3 separate regions of the Homo sapiens genome follow, and regions 1 and 3 are each reported to be linked to region 2. Evidence: microRNA targets listed by miRTarBase, many of them from high-throughput screens and not tested one by one. Region 2 holds a microRNA gene; each other region holds the end of a gene's coding sequence.
Evidence for each region. The annotated mature microRNA hsa-miR-6870-3p reads GCUCAUCCCCAUCUCCUUUCAG and lies in region 2 at 1,529-1,550, opposite strand. An mRNA with a match to its seed (bases 2 to 7 or 8) in the 3' UTR can be bound and repressed. Matches are read on the target gene's strand: a 7mer-m8 pairs with bases 2 to 8, a 7mer-A1 pairs with bases 2 to 7 and ends in A, and an 8mer does both.

Region 1: miRTarBase lists SMCR8 as a target of hsa-miR-6870-3p. Seed matches in the 3' UTR shown: 7mer-A1 at 2,588-2,594 and 7mer-m8 at 2,559-2,565.
Region 3: miRTarBase lists HACD4 as a target of hsa-miR-6870-3p. The part of its 3' UTR that is shown has no 7-base or 8-base seed match.

The regions. Positions count from the first base shown.
Region 1 is chr17:18,322,563-18,326,753 of GRCh38, reverse strand. It overlaps SMCR8 (SMCR8-C9orf72 complex subunit), which reads right to left. Exons shown (of 2, transcript NM_144775.3): 2 at 1-4,137. The coding sequence ends at 3,684. Among named protein-coding and RNA genes, the nearest start is that of SMCR8, 9.4 kb to the right of the region's middle. RefSeq lists a silencer at 921-1,030 and enhancers at 3,560-4,059, 4,060-4,191.
Region 2 is chr20:10,648,108-10,652,278 of GRCh38, forward strand. It overlaps MIR6870 (microRNA 6870), which reads right to left and starts at 1,588; the gene lies at 1,529-1,588. JAG1 (jagged canonical Notch ligand 1) reads right to left here. Exons shown (of 26, transcript NM_000214.3): 7 at 4,024-4,143; 8 at 3,474-3,587; 9 at 2,140-2,253; 10 at 1,415-1,528; 11 at 954-1,000; 12 at 442-615; 13 at 1-3. RefSeq lists a silencer at 3,074-3,368.
Region 3 is chr9:21,003,309-21,007,482 of GRCh38, forward strand. HACD4 (3-hydroxyacyl-CoA dehydratase 4) reads right to left here. Exons shown (of 7, transcript NM_001010915.5): 7 at 1-3,811. The coding sequence ends at 3,729. Among named protein-coding and RNA genes, the nearest start is that of HACD4, 26 kb to the right of the region's middle.

The DNA of each region.
Region 1 (4,191 bases), not on the chromosome of region 2:
GCAAGACATTCAGTGAGCAGAGGGCTGCCCTCGGCCTCCAACTGCAGCCGCCCTGGCGCGTGAAATGAAATTGGTGGGCCTTCCTAGGATTGTAAAATGGGACTTGTCATTTGTGTGAGGTTGAAATCTACTATACTTTGAATATGGCAACTGTTTTCAACCACTGAAGCAAAGAAGGTAAAGGCCAGATGGGGAATGAAAGGTAAGGTACTGTGGTCTATTTCCAAATTTGGGAGCAATGTGTGTAACTTCAACTGTTGGAGTAAATGAGTTATGGAAAAGCCACAATTTCTAAAATCCCAAGGTTCTACCAAAGGAGTGAGGTTCCTGGGGAAACAGGCATGAGGCAGCAGCTCAGGCTGATGTGTCCTGTGCGATATAAAAAGCTGTGGCCTGATCTCTAAAGTGGGGCTTTTGAAAATCACCAGTCCACAACTACCTGCCTGGCTAGTTTAACCTAGACTGCTTCAGAAGCAAGGGAGGGGGATAATGGACTGGAGAAAAAGCTGACACAAAACTCAAGACAACCAGTTTCAGTACCTGGGCCCTCAAAGCAATAGTGAGGACTGAGAAAGTAGCAAGGGGCACTGATGTCATCTATTTTCTGGGAAGTGTAATTTTTAATGGTTTCATTAAAAACTTACTAACCTTCTACTGGAAGAATACCTCAAATGAAAAATTTTTTTTTTTTGAGACAGTTTTCGCTCTTGTTGCCCAGGGTGGAGTGCAGTGGCGCGATCTCGGCTCACTGTAACCTCTGCCTCCTGGGTTCAAGTGATTCTCCTGCCTCAGCCTCCCGAGTAAGTGGGATTACAGGCACGCACCACCAGACCTGGCTAACTTTCTTTGTATTTTTAGTAGAGATGGGGTTTCACCATGTTGGCCAGGCTGGTCTCCAACTCCTGACCTCAGGTGATCCGCCCACCTCGGCCTCCCAAAGTGTTGGGATTACAGGCGTGAGCCACTGCGCCCGGCCTCAACTGAAAATTCTTGATGAGATTAGTCCCACTGCATAGGTCTCAGCACTGAGGTTTAGAGATGTGAGACTCAGAGTAGGTTTCAGTTCCCCGGAGTGAAGGGGGCATAGGGAGGGGCAGGGCTTCCCAGTGTTAACTGCCTCTGCCCAAATCATGACTCAGTCCTGGTACCACGTCAAGATCCCTTTGAAAGGAAACATACTTTGCATCAAGTAATCCTTTGAAACTGCCACATTGAAAAGTTAGTTTTTAACCCAAATATAAATCTGGGAGCTAAACACTAGTCACGAAGCCATCTTTACTTAATGAAGAACCACCTTGAGGGAGACCAGCCCTGCTTGCCACTTACATGGCTGCCCCTGAGACGGTCTGTTCTGTTCATGCCCCAGCAGCCTTTTGCCTTAGGTTTCAGGACCTTCTGAACCACCCTTGAGGGTGTGTGCCAGCAAATACCTCAAGTGGACTTCTACTTAGGACCACTTGAGGGCACAACTTCAGCTTCTAGAAGGCCAAGTGTGGCTGCAATTCAGGATCTGCCCCAAACTCATCAGCCCTTCCCAAGTTTCCCAGGTGAGAACAGTATGAGCTGTGAATTTCTGTGTTGGTGTGACAGGAATGCCACAGTGGTGGTGCCAGTGATCACTTTCTGACCTTCCTTCCTTCTCAGATAAAATGTTGCACAGTTATGGCCTTGGAGGCCTAAGTAGACAGCAATTAACCAGCCAGTGAGAAAACGAATCAGCATCTAGAACAGGAGGGGAGGGAACCGTAACAGATAAGGGAGCCCACGATTAGAAGCAGGCTCCCTGCACAGCCTCTGCCTCCAGCGCAAGTAACAGACGTTTCACATTTAAAGGCTGCCAAGGTATTGCTGGCGACTCTCCTGTCTGTGAACATGCGCAACGGGCACAGGTACAGAGAACCAATGAGATGTAGGCAGCACCATCTGCCACAAAAGGTTCTCCATCGCAGCCCCAGGAGCAAAATCAAACACCTCTGATGGGAGCAAGGACCCTGAACAGAAGCCAACGGCTGGAGCCAACGGGCCATGCCCTTAAAACGAGGACTTGGACAAGGAGGGAACCACTGGAGTGACGTGATGCAAGCCCTCTTCGGTCACTCTTGGCTTCCACCAGGGGTCTCTGCCTCCTTGATGAGAAGAGAAGCTGGCTGGCTCCATGATGACCTCGATGGCGTACTACAGGCCGATGGGCAGGCCGGGCCTCAGCAGCAGGCGCCAACAGAAGCACACCCAGGGCTGATTCAGGTCCATTTCAGCATAATTTTTGTGGAACAAATTAAAGAAGCAGTAATACCAGAGCTGTCCCCACTTAGGGAATAAAATTTTCAAGGCTGCAAGAAACTCTCTGTCTACAAACCAGTGGCCATTGCCTAAGGAGGCTCGGGGAGGCCAGGGGATCACTATCAGTGGGATAGGTGCTGGCGGAACCAGGGGGTGTCTCCTTCCCAGTTTCAAACTTGTCCTCAGAAGGGGGACTCAACTGGGGACGGCCGTGAGCTGTGGTGACTGAGGTGCACACAGCCTCCCAGAGGCAGAACCTGAAGAGCGCCACGTGGTAGCTCATCCAGGAAATCCGTGCTATTTGAGTTCTCATCGGCTGGGCCAACCACCTGCACCAGCTGACTAAACAGAACCGTTGCTGTCCCAAGCCCACGAGACCCAGTGAGAGGTAGTGAAGTGGTTGCAAAGGTTTATGTGGGTGGGAGCTGGAGTGTGGCCTCTGCCATGTTCACACGGGTCTGCAGACCTTCCCCACGAGGAAGGTCAGTGCTCATGCGCTCTGGCCGGCAGGAGCCAGTGGGCCACCCAGGAGAGCTGCTGGCTGCTCCTCCCTTGCATGGTGGTGATGGCCTCATGGCGCCTCAGCCCTGCTCTGCCTGCTGTGCTCTCCAGCCCCCAAGGTGGTCCTCACCATTGGCTTTGGTCACTTGTGCCCGCTTCACACTAGGACTAGTGAACACTCTGCTCGTTCCTGGTGAAAGAGTATGGGGAGTGAGTCCCAAGGCCCGCTCACAGGCACTTCTCTCCCAGGTAAAGGTGGCGAGGACAGCGGACAGGGTGCTGCTCACGCTCTGTGGCCCTGAGGCCAAGGTCGCATGTTTCCCACGACCCAGAGGGTGGCAGCCTTTCTCACCCCCACTGGCTGGTCCAGGGCCTCCCCTAGGACAGTGGGCTCCAGGAAGCAAATAAAGGGCTGCATCTGGGTCTGAAGGAGGCGATGGGTGTTCTGCCCTCCTGTTTTCCACCAAACCACAACAGTTACCTGGCTGTCACCCTCGTTCATTTTGCCACTCAAGTGTCCGGCAATGCTGAATACAGCCAGTGTGCTCCTCCCATCAGGCTTTGGCCTTCCTGCCCTCACCCTGCCCCACCAAGGGACTGGTGGCTTCCCTTCTGCCCTGGCTGCCAGTCCTCAGAAAACCAAGGCCCCCTCCATATCCAGGGGCCACTCTTCACCAGGGAGCCAAATGTAGCTGTCACCATCCCTCCAGACGCCTTTAGAGGGAGCCAGGCTCCACTTCTGCCCATGTCCAACTTAAAAACTACTAGGAGCCACGTGGGAACCATGCTGCCAGACACCAGAAACTTAAACAGTCCAGCTCAGGCAACTGTTTGGTCATGCCAACCCCTCCCCTCCCCATACCCTGAGTCACAGGTCTTGGTCACAGTGTCTGGGACCGACCTCAGATTTTATACAAAAAGCTGGGGACATAGTCAAACCTGAGCATGGGGTGGCTGGTCCCTGGAGATTCCTGCATGTAGTGCAGCTTCAGCAGCTCAGCCAGGTACTGGACCACCCTAACATCCTCATTCACCAGACCCAGGGTCAGCTTTAGGAAGCTCATCTGGCGGCTGGCTACCAGCTCCTCTGTCTCCTTGTCGTGGGTAGGCAGGTGCAGGTGGTGGCAGAAGGTGTAGAGGAAGGCCTTGGAGCAGAGCTGGGTGAGCATGCTCTGGACATGCAGGTAGTAGGTGCTGCCCCGCTTGATCTGTGTGCGGTGGTCTGCCAGGCGGGGCACCAGGGTGCCTCTGTAAAGGGGGCAGCGCAGGGTTTTGTTGTCAAGGTCCAGGATGCTCGTGTAGCGGCTGTAGCGGCTCAGGGCATGGAGGGTACCGGCACCGGCAGGGGAGGCCACTCTGAAACAGACAGGCCAAGGTCAGGAGGAAGGGCAAGGGCCGGGAAAGTGGAGG
Region 2 (4,171 bases):
CAGCTGCAAATATCAGGAACAGCGAAAAGGGGGAGGGATCAGAGTAAAACAAAGGTGTCACGATAACTTCTCTGGGGCAGCAGGCACTGGAATCTGACAGTTCCTTCGGTTTCTATTAGGAGACACCCTGTAAGATACATCTCTATGCTGTAGGGACTGCCAATGTCCAGTATTTGAAACAACGGGGCAGAGTGGGAGAGGGAGCACAAGAGGGGGTGGAGGGAACCAAAAAGAACACAAAGACGAAGACACTAAGAAGAAAATAATTCGTCAGTATCTCCTTCCACCAGCATTTGTCTAGCAGAGACTCTCTCATCAATAGGATGTTAATAGATGTTAGGAAATTCCAGACACAAGAGCTGAGGGAAAAGTAAAGGGAAGCGGAGGAGGCAGCGGCTCTGCTCTAAAAACTTGGCCATCTGAGGTTTTGCCACCACTCACCTGACAGAGGTTTCCAGAGAAACCAGTGGGACACAGACACTGGAATCTGTTGATTTCATTCTGACAGTGACCCCCATTCAAACAGGGGTTGCTGGCACATTCATCGATGTCTCTCTCACAGTGATCGCCTGCATAGCCAGGTGGACAGATACAGCGATAACCATTAACCAAATCCTAGAAGAGGAGAAGGGGAGAGAGAGACACATGCTTTTTTTCTATGTATTCCACAAACACAGGGCTTCAGCGGTTTAGCATGACTGTTGCGGTTTAGCTGGTTCACTGAAATAGCCAAATGCTAAACCTCTGAAAGTGGTTAGAGGAATTTCTATGTGCATGCCTTCAAAATGACTCCCACGAGGCTGGGGTAACATAAGCCCTAGCGAAACTTCCAAGAGACTCTTTTTTCACCCAAATTTTTAAATCTCACAGGGACAGAGCTCTCCTAGTGTCGCACAAATCTAAAGATTTGTTGTCAATTGTCAAAGTTTTGATTTAAGCAAAGATTTACATACCCGACAGGAGGCGTCATTCTGACACTGGCCAAGGCAGTCATTAATATCTAAAAAATAAATAAGTCATCATTTTAAAGAGGTAATTTACAGTGAAATTGGGCTTAATTGAAAAGCCTTCTCAGCTCAGGATAGATAAGTTTCAAATCAGATTTCCTGTGTGCTTTCCGTGAGATAAGGTTATTACGCTGGGTGGGGACCCTCCCTAATTCTTCCAGAATGAGGGAGTGAAACTTCACATCATTGTTTCAGCCACATTATCAGAATATGGCTGGTTTTCGCAGCTAATGAGCCTGATAAAGTGTATGTTTTCACTGCTGCCCTGACCACTCCCTCTCAAAAAACCATTCCCACTCTAAGGTTTTCCTTCTACTGCTCAAGTCCTAGGACTGGAGCCCCAGTACGGACCAGCAAGTCGGCTACCCAAGTTTCATGAAAATCAAAATGGAAACAAAGTCACTCACTTATGTCACAATTCTGACCCATCCAGCCGGGAAGACAGTCGCAGTAGTAGCTGGCAATGAGATTCTTACAGGATTTGGCGTTTACACAAGGTTTGGCCTCACATTCATTTGCATCTGAAAGGAGATGGGGATGAGCATGAGAAATGAAGTTCAACCCCCATCTCCCCCACCTTGGAAAAAAAAAGAACAGGCCAGAGTTTGTCTGAGACATGAGACATTTTAATAAGCTAGCTAAATAAAAGATACTAGAGGTTCCCTCTATTTTAAGCATCTGATCCCTCTCCCTAGCTATTATCCAATAAGAACCCTAATTGATAACTTTCCAGCTGCTAGTTAACCAGCCCCCAACAAAACAGCAGAAAGCCACCAGGCATTTCTGTGCAAAACCCAGGCAGCCTAGTTGCTGGGATTTAAATGTGGCAAAAAGAATGCAGACAGCTCATTCCTCATGAGATCATCCCCTTTTGGAACCCAGCTGAACACTCCTCGGACAGACGATTGACATGGTTCAAGGAATCCCACGACTTTCCCACAGGGCCTAAAAGAGCTAGTCCATTTGCATTCAAGTTATTTCTCCCAGGCCTGCTAGACTCTTGATAATAAATTACTTCTTAGCATGATGGAGTGTGAACTCACACTGCCGGCCACACGCTCGTCTTCTGTAATGGCTTTGACAATCAAAGCCAACCTTGGTATAAAAATTACAGTCACAGGGATGTTCTTACCTAACTGGCACGTTTTCCCAGTCCACTGTGGGGGGCACACACACTTAAATCCGTTAACCAGGTCCTGGCAGGTGCCCCCGTGGGAACAGTTATTAGGAGAACAGTCATCAATGTCTGGTCAACAAGAAAAGGAGGGGGTTGACAATTTAATTCAATCCATCTGACAATTAGATCCTTTAACATCACCTCTTACATGAGGGGCTGTCATTGAAGAGCCAGACACCTGCTACAAGGAAAGCTACAGCAGGACAAGTGGGACGGTGACGATAAGGCCGAAGCCTTGATTTTAGCTTTAAATCCCCCACTGCCCCAGTTCATGTAATCCCCAACCTAAGCAGTGGGGGAGAAAGACAGCTGGATACTGACGGAGCATCCGCCCAGGAGGAACACAGGACATCTCTATCTGCCTAATCTTTATTTTTAAAGAAAAGTTTCATCATGGCTCAGAAGTAGCTAAGAAGTCAGGAAAAATAGTTCTTTACAGGTGGAAAACCTTATTCCTCTCATTTGCTTACAGAGTTTGCCCAAAATAGCACACCTAGAGGCTGCATTCTCCACTTCTGCTCTGACCAGAGACAACTCCTAACAATTTATGAAGTATTCACTTTTGTGTCTTTATGACAACCTCGGAGATGGGAATTGCTACTGTGCCATTTAAAGAGGGCCCGGGGAGCTTCTGTGGCCTGCTGGAGTTCCGCAAGTGACAGGTGGGGGCCTAGGACCAGCACAGGCAATCTGACCCCAGAAATCCACATCCATAACCACACCTGGGGTGCTGATGACAGCGGTTCTCAGACCTGGCTGCACTGCAGAATTCCAGAAGTTTATCAAAGACCATGGACTCCCCGATTCTGGAGGGAATCTGGGGGACCCAGAGATTTACACTGTAAAGCAGCCCAGGTGATTCTGATATACAGCCCTGTCTCACAGCCAAAGGAACTCTGCAGGCCAGGTTCTTCTCTGGGGCCCCCTGGCCCTATGACAGAATCCAGTAGTAAGTGACAACCTCCCCTGAAGGCAGCCTCTCCATGGCTGCAAGAAGAATAACCACAATTGGAAGGTGGCCAGCTCCAGGAAGCAGATGCAAAGGAACAAGCGATTCCACGAGGACGTTCCTTCCAAGAACAGATACATGCGCTACCTTAGTGGGACAGGATGGGGGTGCTGGGAGACTTCCAAACACACAAGCCACCAGACTGCTTACCAGACTTAGGCCTGCACCCGCCCCTCTCTCACCGAGACATTCACACTGGACAAGCCTAGGTACCTCTCCCCAGCGTGGTATCTTGGCACAAGGATCCTTAGAATGGACACAGGCTGAAAATTGGACTTACTTGTAGAGCATGTGGGGCCGGTCCAGCCTGGGGAACACTCACACTCAAAGCCCAGGGAGGTCTCCTTACAGCTGCCTCTGTTGTGACAGGGATCAGAGAGGCAGGCGTGCTCAGCTGCAAAAACCAGGATGGCAGTCAGAGAGGGATGCCTGCACACCGTTACCTCCCCACACCCCCCTCCAACCGAATCCCACACCACAGCCACTAGTGCAAGCATATTTCAAAAACCAAAAGCAAGCGTGTGATAGAACCCTGCTGTGTCTAGGAAAGAAAGGAAGTCATCTTTCTCGCTGAGCTGTCTCTAACCACATTCCAAGACATCTCAGAGCTGGGGTCATTTCATCTCCCGCTGCCTCCTATACGAATCAGCATCACCCAAAAAACTTTAGAGACTTGAAAGTTACAAAGGCTTATAGAATGGTTGGGATAAGGCCTATCTTTGGAAGCTATTTTCACTTTTTTTTCCTTAAACAAGTCCTTAAGTATATTTTTTAAAAGCTGAGTACAGAAAAATTAGACAAAGGGCTCTCATTCATCTTGGACCACTTACCAATTTCACAGTTGGGTCCTGAATACCCCTCAGGGCAGGAACACTGATATTTGTCAGGGCCTGTGTTGCTACAAGTTCCCCCGTTGAGACACGGCTGATGAGTCCCACAGTAATTGAGATCTGCCAAAAAGATCCTGGAGTCACTAAG
Region 3 (4,174 bases), not on the chromosome of region 2:
GTGTAGTTTCTCTAATTTTCTCTTTGTTTTAGTGATTGATTGTACATGTACTTCGGCAGTGTAAGGAGCCATCTTTATTTGGAGTGATTAAGATTAACTCACCTAAAATTTGCAAAGGGTTTATGTTCTCCTTGCACACTAAAGCTTTTCATAATTTTTCTGAAATTTAGAAGATAACTATAAAAGCAGAAAAAATGTAGCTTTTTAAAAGGATAATTTTTTAAAATCCAAATATATTTATAAAGATTTCAAGTAGCCTAATACTCAATTGTTTCTTTCCAAATGTTTTCTTTAGTGGAAATAAGTTACCCATTTTTAAAATTACATTTTTATTATCCTATTCTTACATCACAATATATTTAATACCTTTTTACATAGTTTCTAGGTAAGATCTTTATAATTCTTTACCAAAAATTGAGTGATACATCAATGATACAGCAATGACTATCAGTTATTCACACTTTTTTTAGATTTTCAAAGAAAGCATTTTTCAAAACTATGTAAGGACATATGACTTACATTACAGTAATTAGCAACAATTCAGTAATAATCCAAAACATGAATTTTCCTTTTTAAAAAGTACTTAGTATATTTTTATACCTTTTATCTTCCTGTATGTGTGTGTCATTATTTTTAAAATTAAAAAGAATACAGAATGGGGCATCATTTGTGTATTTGCTAAAGGTTTACTATTTTCATTAGGGTCTTCTCTTTTGAGATAGAGTCTCACTCTGTCACCCAGGCTGGAGTGCAGTGGCTCAATCTCTGCTCACTGCAACCTCCATCTCCTGGGCTCAAGCGATTCTCATGCCCCCAGCCTCCCGTGTAGCTGGGATTACAGGCATGCGCCACCATGCCTGGCTAATTTTTGTATTTTTAGTAGAAATGGGGTTTCACCATGTTGGCCAGGCTGGTCTTGAACTCCTGACCTCAACTGATCTGCCCACCTCAGCCTCTCATAGTGCTAGGATTACAGGTATGAGCCAGCATGCCTGGCCAGGGTCTTCTTTTAAGGCATCAAAGCCCAAATAACTTACAAGATGTTAACAAATACATGACATTAATGAATACTCTATCAGAGCACTAGGGACTGAATGCTGGTGTCCCCCATTAAATTCACATGTTGAAAATCTAATCTCCAGTGTGATGGCATTTGAAGCTGGAACCTTCATAAATGGGATTAGTACCTTTACAATAAGAAATAAGGGAGAGATGGTTTCTCCCTCCACCATGTGAACATATAGCAAGAAGGCATTCATCTGCAAACCATGAAGAAGAATCAGCTAGCACCTTGGAACCTCATCAGGAACTTAATTGTCTAGCACCTTTATCTTGGACTTCCCTGCCTCCAGAACTGTGAGAAATATATTTGTTGTCTAAGCCACCCAGTTTATGGTATTTTGTTATAGCAGCCAAGCTAAGACAGCAATTAGTACCAAGAAGTGTGGTGATGCTATAACCAATATATAAAGATGTGGAAGCAGCTTTGACGTTAGGTAACAGATAGAAGCTGGAAGAGTTTTGAGGTACTAGAGTACCTGGAAGAGTACTGGAAGAGTTTTGAGGTACTAGTTTTTTTGCTAGAAAAAGCCAGTATTGCCATGAAGGGATTGATAGAGGTGATTTTGGTGAGGGCTCAAAGAGAAGAGGGTGGGAGAGAAAGCCTCCATCTTCATAGAGAACACGTAAATCACCATGAAGATAATGTTGGTAGACATGGACAATAAAGGCCATTCTGATGAAGTCTCAAATGAAAATGAGGAACCTGTTATGGGAAACTGGAAGAAAGGTGATCTTTGTTATAATATGCCAAAGAACTTGGATGATTGTGTTCATGTTCTAGTGTTTTGTGGAAAGTAAAATTGTGAGCCATGAAATTAGATATTGAACTGAAGAGATCTCCAACCAGTGTTGAAGGAGTGCCTCGGTTTATCTTGACTGCTTAAAGTAAAATGTGACAAAAAATGAAGACAGAATTCTTAACAAAAACGGAACCAGAACTTAAAAGATGTGGGAAATTATCAGTCTGTCTGCATTACAAAAAGATAAGAAAACACGTTTGGTAGAGAACACTAAGAGTGTAGCAGACAAGTCATCCAATTAGATTTATGTGGGTGTGAACCACAGACCTAATCAGCCACCCCAGCAGGAACACTGCTAGTTTGTATTGAAAGGAATGGAGATGGGACAGAATGAGGGAAGACTGTTGGACTTCTTGAATTTGGGACCATAGAGCTATTCAGCTGTGAATGTACACTATTCTTCAAGAAAAGGAGAAACTGACCCGGAACAATGATTCAGAGAACATCAGTGGTACCTTCTCAGTTTCAAAAGGGGCAGTCATTGCCTTGGTTTCAACAGGCCTGACAGCTTCCGCCTGGTGATATGGGGGTCATCCTCCTCCAACATAGTCCTGGGGGCAATACCTCTGCCTCACTGGGTCCTGAAGCCAGAGTATCAGGCCAAAGAGGATTATTACTAAGACTGAAGATCTCATGGTGTTTGCCTTGCTAGGTTTTGGACTTGCTGGGGACCCATTACACCTTCCTTTTTTCCTGTTTCTTGCTTTGGGAATAGGAATGTCCACCCTTTGTGTGTCCCACCATTGTACTGTGGAAGCACATAACTTGTTTCATTTCACAAGTTCAAAGCTGGAAAGGAATTTTACCTCAGGATGAATTCTACCTTGAATCTCACCCACATCTGATTTAGACGAGACTTTGGACTTTAGAGTTGATGCAGGAATGAGTTAAGACTTTTGAGGCTGTCGAGATGGAATGTATGTATTTTGCATGTGAGGAGGACATGAATTTTGTAGGACCAGGTACAGAATGCTATGGAGTGAATCTTTGTGTTCCCCCAAAATTCATGTGTTAAGCCCTAACCTCCAATATGATGGTATTTGGAGGTGGGGCCATTGGGAGGTAATTAGATCATGAGGGTAGAGCCCTCATGAATGGGGTTAGTGCCATTATAAGAGACATAAGAGAGTTGATCTCTCTCTCATGTGAGGACAAAGAAGGACATCTATCTGCAAACTGGGAAGAGGGCCCTCACCAGAAACTGCATTAGCTGATGCCTTGATCCTGAGCGGAATTCCCAGCCTCCAGAACTGTGAGAAGCGTTTGCTGTTGTTTAAGCCATTCGGTTTATGGTGTTCTATTATAGCAACCTGAGCTAAGACATAGGGCTTGGAAAGATATTTAATTTTCTAAACATATCTAATGTTTAGGGTGAGTATTATTAGATCTGAAGACAGACATCTGTCTATGAAATATGTTATTCTAGGCAACTGTGGAATATATTTTCCATCCCTCTTCTCCTACAGATCTATTTGGGAACTTGGAAGTGAAAAAGAATACATGTAATTTAGGTTATCAAGTTTGGTTTCTTAATTTAATTGAATCTATTGCAGCTAATCTCCTATTTCTCATTAAACTTACAGGAAAATAATCAGACTTCATACAATGTAAGTATAACTTGTATAAAATCCAAATGAAGCAGGAATTTTGGTGAAGCAGGGTATGGAGAATATATATGTCTTAAAAATACAATGTGTGAAAAACATAGCCTGTTATGTCTAGAGTTTTGGGGGTATGTGCAGTTATTTCATGTAATGGATTTTTATCAAATACAAGGTATTTTTCCACCAGAATACTTCCTGTGTTTTATTTACTGCACTGAATCCACAGCCTGTCTTTTCTCGTGTCACACTGGAATGCTGTACTTCACATCTTCTTTTTTTTAATGGGAAAGATTCCGAGGATGTCTCTTCTTTCTGAGTATAGATGACTGTAGGTAAAATACATACCTAATATGGAGAAAGAAGTTGCAAAAGTAAGTAAGGTTAACTATTTCTCTGGAAGAAACAATGCTTTTAAAATACAGTCAGAGTGCTGCCCAAATCCAGGGAGAAGACACTTGCAAGGGAGATGTGAGAAGGAATGTTTAAAGAAGTGTCCAGATTTTATGCAGAAAGAGAGGTAAATCAAACTCTTCCATCCTACTTTTTTTAATGCAAGGAATTGTCTTCCTTTCTTTAGCATAGCTCTCTCCACCTTCCTCTAAAGTTTCACATTTTTGTCTTTTCTCTCTATATGTTGTTCATATGTTTGATATCTGTTACCTTCTAGAGATAATCATTATTTTGGAGATTTGTGAAGGTTAGAGCTGG